Linked DNA regions of Homo sapiens: region 1 is linked to region 2. The links come from fine-mapping of genetic effects on gene expression. Tissue or cell type: whole blood. Region 2 holds a variant in brackets; the other region holds the start of a gene. All regions are shown on one strand. Distances are between the middles of the regions.

Evidence for each region. PIP is the estimated chance that this variant, and not a neighbour inherited with it, causes the effect.
Region 1: it holds the start of RUNX2, and the variant in region 2 is fine-mapped to the expression of RUNX2 in whole blood (TOPMed, PIP above 0.99).

Annotation. Positions count from the first base shown.
Region 1 is chr6:45,325,198-45,330,554 of GRCh38, reverse strand. It overlaps RUNX2 (RUNX family transcription factor 2), which reads right to left and starts at 2,225. Exons shown (of 9, transcript NM_001024630.4): 1 at 2,095-2,225; 2 at 1,771-1,894. The coding sequence starts at 1,828. All of the region lies in intron 2 of SUPT3H (SPT3 homolog, SAGA and STAGA complex component), which reads left to right. RefSeq lists an enhancer at 2,456-2,496, a promoter at 1,903-2,543 and a cis regulatory region at 3,501-3,507.
Region 2 is chr6:45,444,931-45,450,287 of GRCh38, reverse strand. All of the region lies in intron 5 of RUNX2 (RUNX family transcription factor 2), which reads right to left. Among named protein-coding and RNA genes, the nearest start is that of SUPT3H, 70 kb to the right of the region's middle. RefSeq lists an enhancer at 3,839-4,340. The variant T/C (reference allele first, on the strand shown) is at 3,180.

The DNA.
Region 1 (5,357 bases), 120 kb after region 2:
AATACTGAAGAATTTTTTGAAACTTGTGTTGTTCCTGATCTGGTTTTTAAAATGTGTTTAAAATAAATAGTTAAACAGAGTGATAACGTGAAAGAGTAACTTAACTGCCTCTGTTATCCCTCCCTGATATCTCTGTTATCCCTGTTTCAAGTTATCCCTCTGTGTAACAGTAGTTTTAACTATTCTTTTTCCTTTTATCTCTTGGGTAGTAGTAACAAAACTTTCGATGTATAAGCTGTAATTATGCTATGTGTTGTAATGTAGTCTAGCTGTGTTTATGTCCTGCTTCCTTAATATAGAAGTTTTTAGAGTAATACTTGGTACCCATCATTAAAATTTTAAATTAATCTGTGATTATTATATTGTATATATTATAACTGAGGGGGCCCACTTACAGCTATTGAGGGAGTCACTAAAGCAATTTTACATTTTTTTTTGTAAAATACAAAGTACATTTCCTCACCCTGTAAGAGAAACCATTTTTTCTCCCTTCAGGTTTAATTATTTCTGTTTGACCTAAACTGAGACTGATCCTCTAGTAGTATCCAGTTAAAATGTGTGAAGTAGGAGGAGTAAAGGAAACTCCAGTCATTAGTTGTAAGTTAAAAGCAGAGTTAATATAGATGTACACAGCAAGAAGGTTTATTTTAATGGATATAAGAAAAATTTTTGAAAACTTGCCTTGTAGTTGGAACATGTTGGAGATCATAAAGAGAATCTTGTAAGTGTGTTTAGATATTTTGCTATAATAACACATCAGCTGATGAATGTTAAAGTCATTTACATATCTGTATCAACAGTAACTTGAAATTAAATATTAAGGGACAAGATTATGCCTACTTCTTTTAAAGTCCAGCATGGTTTAATAGTTGTGGCTTTTAAAAATCATACAGGGTATCCTTATGGAGCTTTATTTTTCATGAGACTAAACAGCAGTTATTCATTTTGGTAGGTCCAAGAATGTGATTAAAAGAATCTTAGACGTTTCAGTGTTTCAGTGTGTTTATAACAAGGTCTATGGATAACAGTGTGTAGATGTAAAATTAAAATTACATAGAAAAATGCAGTTGCATGTAAGTTTTAAAATACTTCCATGAACTTTTTAATATCCTGGGCAACTATAAAGATCTTTTAAAAATGGCTGTGATGTGCTTATCATAATTTTATTTCAGCTGAATGTATACTTATATAAAGTTGTTTAGAAACAAACTTATTTAGATAGGATACAGTTTGAATTTATAAGTAGATTTCTTTTAGTTGAGCTGGTTAAAATGTTAACTGTACTACAGGTTTATTTCTGTGTTATACATGGTAGACCATAATGTTGAGATAATTCTGTGGTCTGTTATTTTGTAAAATTGCTTCCTTTTTGAAGTTTGCTCAAATATTGGGAGCTGCCGGAGTCAATAATTTATAATGCTTTGATTAATTTAGGATCTGACTTTTCTTCTGGTGAGGGTTAATGAGAGTATTAAACTGTTTCTTTTACTGTTTTCATATCCTCACCTCTATAACTCTAGAAAACATTTTGATCAATGTGAGATAATTTAATTTTGTATATTTCAAGTCATTACTTTGAAAATTAGATACATTACAGATACCAAATGCAAATATATACAGAAATTTCATTTTTCAATTCTTAATGCAACAAGATAGCATAATTAGGATCTTTAATATGCTATTTGGAAAAGCTAGCAGTTTATCAAAGAATCATACCTTTATGTTTAACAGGTTCATATCTTACAGGATTTTAAAAATGGTAACACTTACCCCAAAAGAAGTTTTGCTGACATGGTGTCACTGTGCTGAAGAGGCTGTTTGATGCCATAGTCCCTCCTTTTTTTTTCAGATAGAACTTGTACCCTCTGTTGTAAATACTGCTTGCAGCCTTAAACTGAAAATACAAACCATACCCAAACCTTGTTTTAGTTTTACAGTATGCCTGGAGTACATAGACTTTATATTTATTTTTTTCTGTCAAGAAATTATGTAGCTGGTAACATGTGAAAAGCAAAGAAACAAAACAAAAAGAGAATGAGCAAATATTTGAAGGACCTACTATTACTGCATAGACTGTGGTTAGAGAGCACTCACTGACTCTGTTGGTCTCGGTGGCTGGTAGTGACCTGCGGAGATTAACCATTTAAAAACCAGAGACTTCTTGCTGTCCTCCTGGAGAAAGTTTGCACCGCACTTGTGGTTCTGTGGTTGTTTGTGAGGCGAATGAAGCATTCACACAATCCAAAAAAGCAAAAGCTTTAAAACTCCTTTTTTTTGCAAGCACTATTACTGGAGAGGCAGAATCATGTGGTTTGTGACCTCACAGTACTCTTAAGTAAAGTGGGACTGCCTACCACTGTGGCTTTTCCCCCTTGCTCTTTCTCTCTCTCTCTTTCTCTCACAAAAGGCTTGTGGTAAGGCCTTTCCTGGCATCCAGAAGGATATAGCTTTTTAATTTTTGTGACTCATGAGGATTTGGATAGAATACAAATGCTGAAGGAGCCCAAACTCCTGTAAGGTTAAGCATTTGTAGAGCAGAGCTCTGCAGTTAAGGGCTTTCCTTTCTACTCCCCGCTCAACCTCTGCCTTTTTGCCTCCTCTTTTTAGTTCATTATTGTGTCTGTGGAAAAATGAACAAAATTGGCTCAAGAGTCTGTGTGAAATTCTGAACAACAGTGATGATATACAATAATTCACATCTTTGGACTGTATCACATTCTGGGGTCTGCTTCATATTTGCTGGGTGGCTGGATTCCTTCTGTTTTCCTTTTTCTTGTCTTCTTAAACTTGTGAATCTGTAACTCATTGTAAAAAAAAAAAAAGTTTACCTTAAGGTCTGGTTGCAAACTGCTTGCTAGGCTTGACTATAATTGGCTGTCATGAAAGTGTTAGTCTGGGCATTCTTTTACAAATTTTAAATCACGTCTGTCTAGTTTATTATCAATCTATTAGATGGCGGCCTTTACAATAAAGATTAAATGTAATGTTTCATGTATACCATTATCTCATGCCTAGTTTGAAGATCTTAAAAAAATGAATGACAGGGATTGTAATATAGTTTATTGGATGAATCTTAGTTTTCTTTATGATTGTAATATTTTTTGTCTTTCATTGAAGTGTATTCAGTTTATATAGTTCTTTAAGTAGTTTAGACATTAATAGAGTTTCTGATAGCAGATCTTCTATAAAGTAAAATGCTTATGTTATAATGTAGATTGTTCAGTATTTGATTCTATGAGCTTAGAATAGAGTGGGTTAACAGAAGCTATGTATTTTTTTGTTTCTAATGGAAGCTTTGAAATAAATTACAAAATGCTGTGTGTAGTAAGGAATAATGCCCACAGACAGAGTATGTTAGTCGTCTCGATTTGCTAATTCTGATTCAGAAGAAAATTGGAAACATCTTTGGGAAACTATCTCCTTTTTTGCCCCTTTGGACAAGTATGTATAGAACTCATTTTCTTATTAGGATGATTATATATCATAGGCAGTGAATTTTATATTTATGAATAGAGCTTCCTGTTTTCATCAGTTGGGAGCGATGGAGTATTTTTCAACCAAAATTATAAAGGCGAACAGACCAATTTTCTAGGCATTTTTTTGCCATTTATCCATGCCACTCTAAATCTGCATGTTAGACTTCTTCCTAGTGTGACAGTAACTAGGAGTGGCATAAAGTAAATGGGGTGGGCGGAGACAGTGAATTACAAAAGATTATTTGGAATGTGCAGGGAGGTAAGGGCTAGGGAGACAGGAGGGTGTTAGAACTAAAATATCCCTGTGTTCTTCCTAGTGCTATTCATTATCTGCTTTTGGTTCATATTAGATCACAATAACTGTACAAATATGTTCATAAGTTTCTTTACAGAAAATTTGATTTTCCCAAAATACACTGGTAGGGTATGGGAATGATTCTAGTCCTTTATTTTTCAAATGTCCAGAACCTTTTCAGAATAAACTTTTAGTGATAAAAAACCAGAAATACATTTTGGTGTTTTATTTTAACTATGGATTTATCATGCCTTATTGTATGTGTAAACAGATTTTACATTGAAAGGTAAAAGCGTTCATTTAACATGCAGTTATTCATGTGAAGGAGAGAAAAATTATTTTTTCTCTTTTATAAATAAGTCGTATCCATATTATCTGTATCTCTAATTAGTATCCAAAGTAAACAAAAGGAGGGTTTTGTCCTTATAGCTTGTGGGATTTCCAAACATGGTTTCATGTGTACCTATAATAGCAGAATCACTTAATTGAAAATATGTAGGTAGCTGCTGTAGTATGATCAGCAAATGGTTTTCTTCTTTTCAAATAAGCTTATAGTTTCTACATTAGCATTCACTGAAACATCTTACAAACCCAACATTTTGCTATTTTCTTCCTTAAAATCTTCTTTATGTAAACTTTGGCTCTTCAAATTGACCTGATAAGAATTTAAGTAATTTTTAACATCTATTTGTCATTTAATTACCTGTTCACTTTTTGCAGGTAATCCTCCTGCATGTAATTTTTGGACCAGGATTTGAGAGTTTAGTAGATATTGTTATATATGCACTTTTTGTCCTCTGTGAGGCCTATCAAATTCTAGCAGGAGAAAGATAGTGAAATCATGTGCTTTAAGTTAGTATATTCATTATCCACATGAATTTTTTTCCTAAAACGAAAATATATCCTCTTTGGAGCAAATATTACTTTGTTGTAAAAATTTAAAAAACAATGACAACTGGGGCACATTTGATAATTGGTACACATTTGATAACAGTGTGTTTCATTAGAAATAGCTTACTACACGTGGTGAAGAGATACTGATTTAGAAAAGTCAATGCAAATAAAGCTCTTGATTATAGATTTATACCATGGTTATAATCAGAAATTGAAAACCACAGATTTATTTTTATTTTTATTTTTGCTTTTTAAAGACCCATAAAATTTTATCCTCTCTGGGGACATGTTAGTATTTGCTGTTTTGAAGTAAGCAACAAGTTTAGGTATACTGTATAAATCACATACTTTAATGCCATGGAAATGAAATACAGTTTTGATCTTGAAATCAATTTCAAAGAAAAAAAGTTGTTGGTATCTTGCTTCTCCATTGCTTTGTAGTGAATAAAATGTGTTAGAATTGGTTGAACTTTTGAAAATACCAAGGTATTTGTGTTTAAATGCTATGTGTGTCTTCATTGTAACCATTTGAGTAATTTTTTATTTTCTTAACTAATGATCATATTTTAATACATTAGTTTTACTTTATCAATATTGTGCTCATTTCTATGCATTTTTTTAAGGATTATTTTAGACTTATTTGCTGCTAACTCTATTCTTTTATTTGCTGCTCATTCTTTGAAAAACAAAGG
Region 2 (5,357 bases):
GGGTTGGGGGAGGAACGGATCTTTCTCAGATCCATCTAGTCCCACATCATTCAGGCAGCACAGGCCCTTCACATCACAGAGGCAGCCATTAACTGGAAACAATTGTCGGTTCTATTGTCATGCTCCTTTTCCTTACAGCAATTATCCTCATTTCCAGTTATTCGCTCTCCTTTGAGCTTCAATGTGGTCATGCCATTCTGTAGCATTCCATCATTTTCCTGATGTTATTTCCCCAACTTCTGTTATCTTTCATAACAGTACCAGCATTATCTATCACAGAATATCTGGGAGATACACATCACGATGTTAGTAGTGGTAATCTTGGGAGATGCAATTATGAGTGATCTCTGTCTTCTTCTTTGTTATTATTAGTTTTTATTTTCTAGTGTGCAATTTTTTCACTTGTGCAATTTTTTAAAGTTAATTTTTTTTAAGTACTAAATTCATTTCACTGGTATTCAAAGTAAGATTCTATTGAGGTTAAGTTATACAATGTATTATTTTCATCTCACAAAATTCAGTGTTTTCAGCTGTTAAAATGAATTCAATACTCATTCAACAAACATGCCTATGTCCATGAACTGCATGCCCACTCTGTGCCAGGCCTTATAACTTTGACTTCTGTACTATTCAGCGATGCTACTGCAGCATTAAGCATGCTTCTTATGTAACACTGCTTCATCACATCAACCAAGAATCCCCTGGGCCCAACACTTACACAGACTTGACAAACGGCAACAGGATAAACAGGAAAATATCTGGAATCCTTGCCTGTCTCTATAAATCATCTGCTGACTTGCAGAGTAACATAGGACAAATGAGTTCTCAGGTGTCCATGCCTCAGTTTACCTATGTGTAAAATGCATAACGCCTCCCTCAGAGAGATGTACAGAGAATCACTGAGGTAATGTCTAAGCATTTGGAACTCCTTGGCAGAAAGGCGCTACATAATTACTAATTGGTATTTAAGCTGCCCTTCATGTGTGCCAAGTACTTTATGATCATTCCTTAGGAGTTACTCCCAGCTACTTTGTGAAGTTGCCTTCATGTCTATTTCCATTTGAAAGATGAAGAAATAGAAGTAGAGAAAAGTTTAGTGGTTTGCTTAAGGTCACAAAGATGGCAATGAGGTCTCAAAAGAAGAATTCCTGAGTCCTCCAATCCCCTTAGCCATAAGGGAATCCACCTCTTAAACACAAACTACCCTTACAGATTAATTCCCTGTTAAGCTACTCTGAAATAGCCTTCATGGTAGAAAACACATTGTCACTTGTTTTTGTAGGCTGGAGTAAACAGTGAGGGGGTGAAACAGAAACCAAAGCTCTAGAATTAGTAACCCAGACTTCACACTCACCCTTCTTTTTACACATCTATATTTCTCCTCACTTCTTGTAGAACAACCTGCATTTGGTACCTTCATCATCTCCTTGAAGGGCCCATCTTTGCCTACTAATAATTTCCTGGGCCAATCCTAAGGAGGCATAAGGCCCAGATTAATCATCCTGAGTATCCCCCGCAACCAAAATACATGCTAGCGTTTTTACCCAGATTGTATCTCATAAAATTTAACTCCAAGGAGGTAAATGAGAAGATGAGAATGCATGTTGTGGAGGGTGCATATGCATTCTGAGAGTTCACGGCAAGGCAGAAAGCACCAGCTTGCTTCAGTGTCATCTGATGTCTTCCCCACCTGCCAACTACTGCACAACCCCAGGAAGACACACACCGAGCCAGCACTGGAGTCACCCCATCCACCTTGCCCAGAGCTAGTCTCACCCCAGATCGTGGTCTCCTGGCCCTTTTAAACCATGTTCCTCTAGTCCACACATTATTTTCTTCCCTCTTCTTAATTCGTTGATTCGTTTACCCTACAAAAGACAGCTCTTGTGGTTCTGAGTCCTGTACTCTCACCAAAATGACAGAAACGTGTGGACACCAATATCTAAGGATTCCTGCTCCGGTTGCTCAGGGAGCAACAGCCACATGACCTCTGCAGAGCAAGTGTAATGGTGGAGTTCTTTAACATAAATTTGGATAAAAAGTTCCAAAGCAACTCAGTGCCTGCCCATGGCAAAAGTGTAAAATAAGGGATTTAATTTCCTCCCCGTTTGCTTTCTCCTCTGCAGGAACATTCCCTCTGACCTCCTCCCCACTCACTGACCCTAGACCTCTCCAGAGTTCTCCAGAGTGACAGGAGCTTAGAAACATTTCCCTTCCACCATCTTTCATGAATATTATCTGTCCTGTGTTCCATTTCCTTAAATACTACTCCAGCTAACCTGATAATAATGACCTGAAAGTTTCAATACAAAGGAATGACTGGAAGTGTGGATCTCAGGCACTCAAAGCAGACAGGCTTTCAGCAGAACGCCTCTCACATCACCGCATGTTGGCAGCAGCTAACACACACAACTGCTAACATTTTCAGGAATAAAAACTCTCTGAGAGTTTCACACTAACAGTTTCTCATTGAAGGAATTACTGAAGGATCTACATCAAGAAAAAAGCAAACTCAACTTAAAAGGAAGAACTAAGGTGAAAGAAGGAATGATAAGCAAATGAATCAATAAACATAATGGATAAATACAAGTATAAACATTTTTTAAACACCGATAATGACTAATCCAGGAAATATAAAACAAGGATCTACTAAAATATCAGATAACGACATTAGAAGAGAGGGGGTGAGACTGCAGTTTAAAGAATGCTAAAGTTCTTGTATGGACAGAGATCATGATTAATTTTAATAAGACAAATATACATATTAAAATGGTAAAGATAATACTAAAATAAAAGAAACACATTCAATGATAACTTGCAAACCAATAGAGTAGGAAAGCTAGCATGTATCTAGAACAACAGAAAAGGAATACTCTGAAAGGAAAACATTTGCAAAAGAGAGAGATATGGAAATACAGAACCCTAAAACTCTCACCTTTCAATAACAAAATCTTGCACTCTTAAGAGTATATCAGAACTGGAAAGCATCAGGAATGCTCATTGCTACAGTTGACCTGCAGCAAAACTGTGATGCCTGAAGTTGGCAACCACTGGCCTCAAGGCCGGCAAAGGTCCTGCCTGCTGCACACTGCCACTCACTGTTTACTTTCTAGTACCCAGGATTTCACTGACCACTCCTCCCCTATCTTCCAAAACCTACTTCCCAAAAAATGATTCTA[T/C]GTCACTTGTTTTTATCTTAATAAGAATTTAAGTCTGAGTTACCTTTTCCAGGGGTGCTTGGGTTTAAGCCTTAAACCTAAATTTTAATGAAGAGTTTTGGTCTTCCAACAAATAGATTTTCACCACCAGTGTGCAGTAGCAGAGAAATTATGAGAACTGGAGCCCTTCCTTTGCTACTTACAAACACAGTCTTTTATTTTAACTGTTACATATGATCTTGAATTAATATTTTAGACCTAAATGGTTTTTATGCCTTTTCTTAATTTCCAAAATTACTTGAACAAACAAGAGCAATTAATTATTTTTTATACCTGCTTAAATAAAAACTTTAGAGATTTTATGTGAAGGCCAAAGATGTTCTTTAGTTGACATCATAAATGTATCCTATAAAAATGCTAGGTATGGACAGGTATGAATGGGAAAAGCAATACAACAAATCTTTTTTTTCCCTGCTATTTTTAAGTATGTCCTATTCACTGGTCTAGTCTTCCTTGAAGAAATTGCCATGGCACAAACAAAATAGAGGTGAACAGAATATTTCAGTGATCTATCAGGAATTATCTTTCTTGAGAACGAAAGGTCATTATTATTTAAAAAAAAAAAAAAGAGAGACAAAAAAAGGGGGGGAGGGGAACCTCTTTCTCTCAAGTCCCTGTCAAGTCCCTAACACTATTTTCAGAATGAATGATCTCTGACTTACACTAAGATACAAACTACTGACACATTTGGATCAAGCATGTATGTGTTTTTAGAACACATATCACTTGAAAACTTGCCATGCTATATTTAGTTAGAAGTAAATATATCAACTGGAACATATGCATGTGGAAACTGTGCTCTTGCTGTGAAAGCTACAGCACCTTGTTAACACAAGTCCAATACAATGAAAACGCATATTCAGAGCTGGGAAGCCAGGGAAGAGTGCAAAGGAGGGACACGAGCATGTTTTAACGGCTGTGATAATTTGCCATGAAAGGATGTTAATGCCATAGCTCCTTGCTGCAGCATGCCATGTGCTGCTGAATTAAATTACTGCCATGCAGTCTGCGAGCGAAGGAATGTGTAAACAGGCCATATATCCTTGCATCAGTTCCACAGAATGTTGCACAACACAAAATGCCTCTCGATGTGTCATTTCCTTCTTGGCTATCTTCCCAGCTCCTGACAGCCAGTCAACAAAAAAAAAGGACTGAAAGATATTTAAAACTGGTCTTCTCAAGAGCACATTCCACCAACCACCAGACATAACCTCCACCAGCGCTTCTGACCCATCCCCCCGCCCCCCTCATCCTTCTTGAAGAAAGGGAAACAGAGAACAGTGGGGTTTTCTTACTGTTATTATTCTCTTAAGTTAAAGATTTTCAACGATGTTTTATATACTGGTAGCCAAGTGATTAATATCTATGACAATCAAATTGCTGCTTGTATTTGCCAACTTGTAAATATCAAAACATGGCATTTACCCATAAATTCTATTCCTTGGGCACTTCGGAGACAGTGAAGAACCCAGGGGAAGTCTGAAAGTCAGGAAGTTAAGGGCTTCTCTACTAATGCTTTGTGCTAAGGACTAAAACCCAGGCCTGCAGCATCTGGGGCATGGCACAAAGGCTATCAAGGTTTTTTCAAATCATCCTCACAGACTGCAAGAATGTGAATGCAAGAACTGTGTCCAGAAGAATCAAATAATCTTAAAAAATACATCTGCTGTCCCTCTATCCAACATATTTTACATGTACCCTCACCTTATTTCACATGTGACCAATCTCTAAATAAGCATCTTCCTGGGCCGGGCGCGGTGGCTCACACCTATAATCCCAACATTTTGGGAAGCTGAGGCGGGTGAATCACCAGGTCAGGAGTTTGAGACCAGCCTGGCCAACATGGTGAAATCCCGTCTCCACTAAAAATACAAAAAATTAGCCAGGTGTGGTGGCACACACTTGTAATCCCAGCTACTCAGGAGGCTGAGGCAGGAGAATCGCTTGAACCCAGGAGGTGGAGGTTGCAGTGAGCCGAGATCCCGCCACTGCACTCCAGCCTGGGAGACAGAGCAAGACTCCATCTGAAATAAAATAAAATAAAATAAGCATCCTCTTTTGGTAAATAAGCAAAAGTCATGGGCTAGCCTTTGGCATAAAAAGTCTATTCCTTCACCCAACTAAGATGAAAAGTAATGG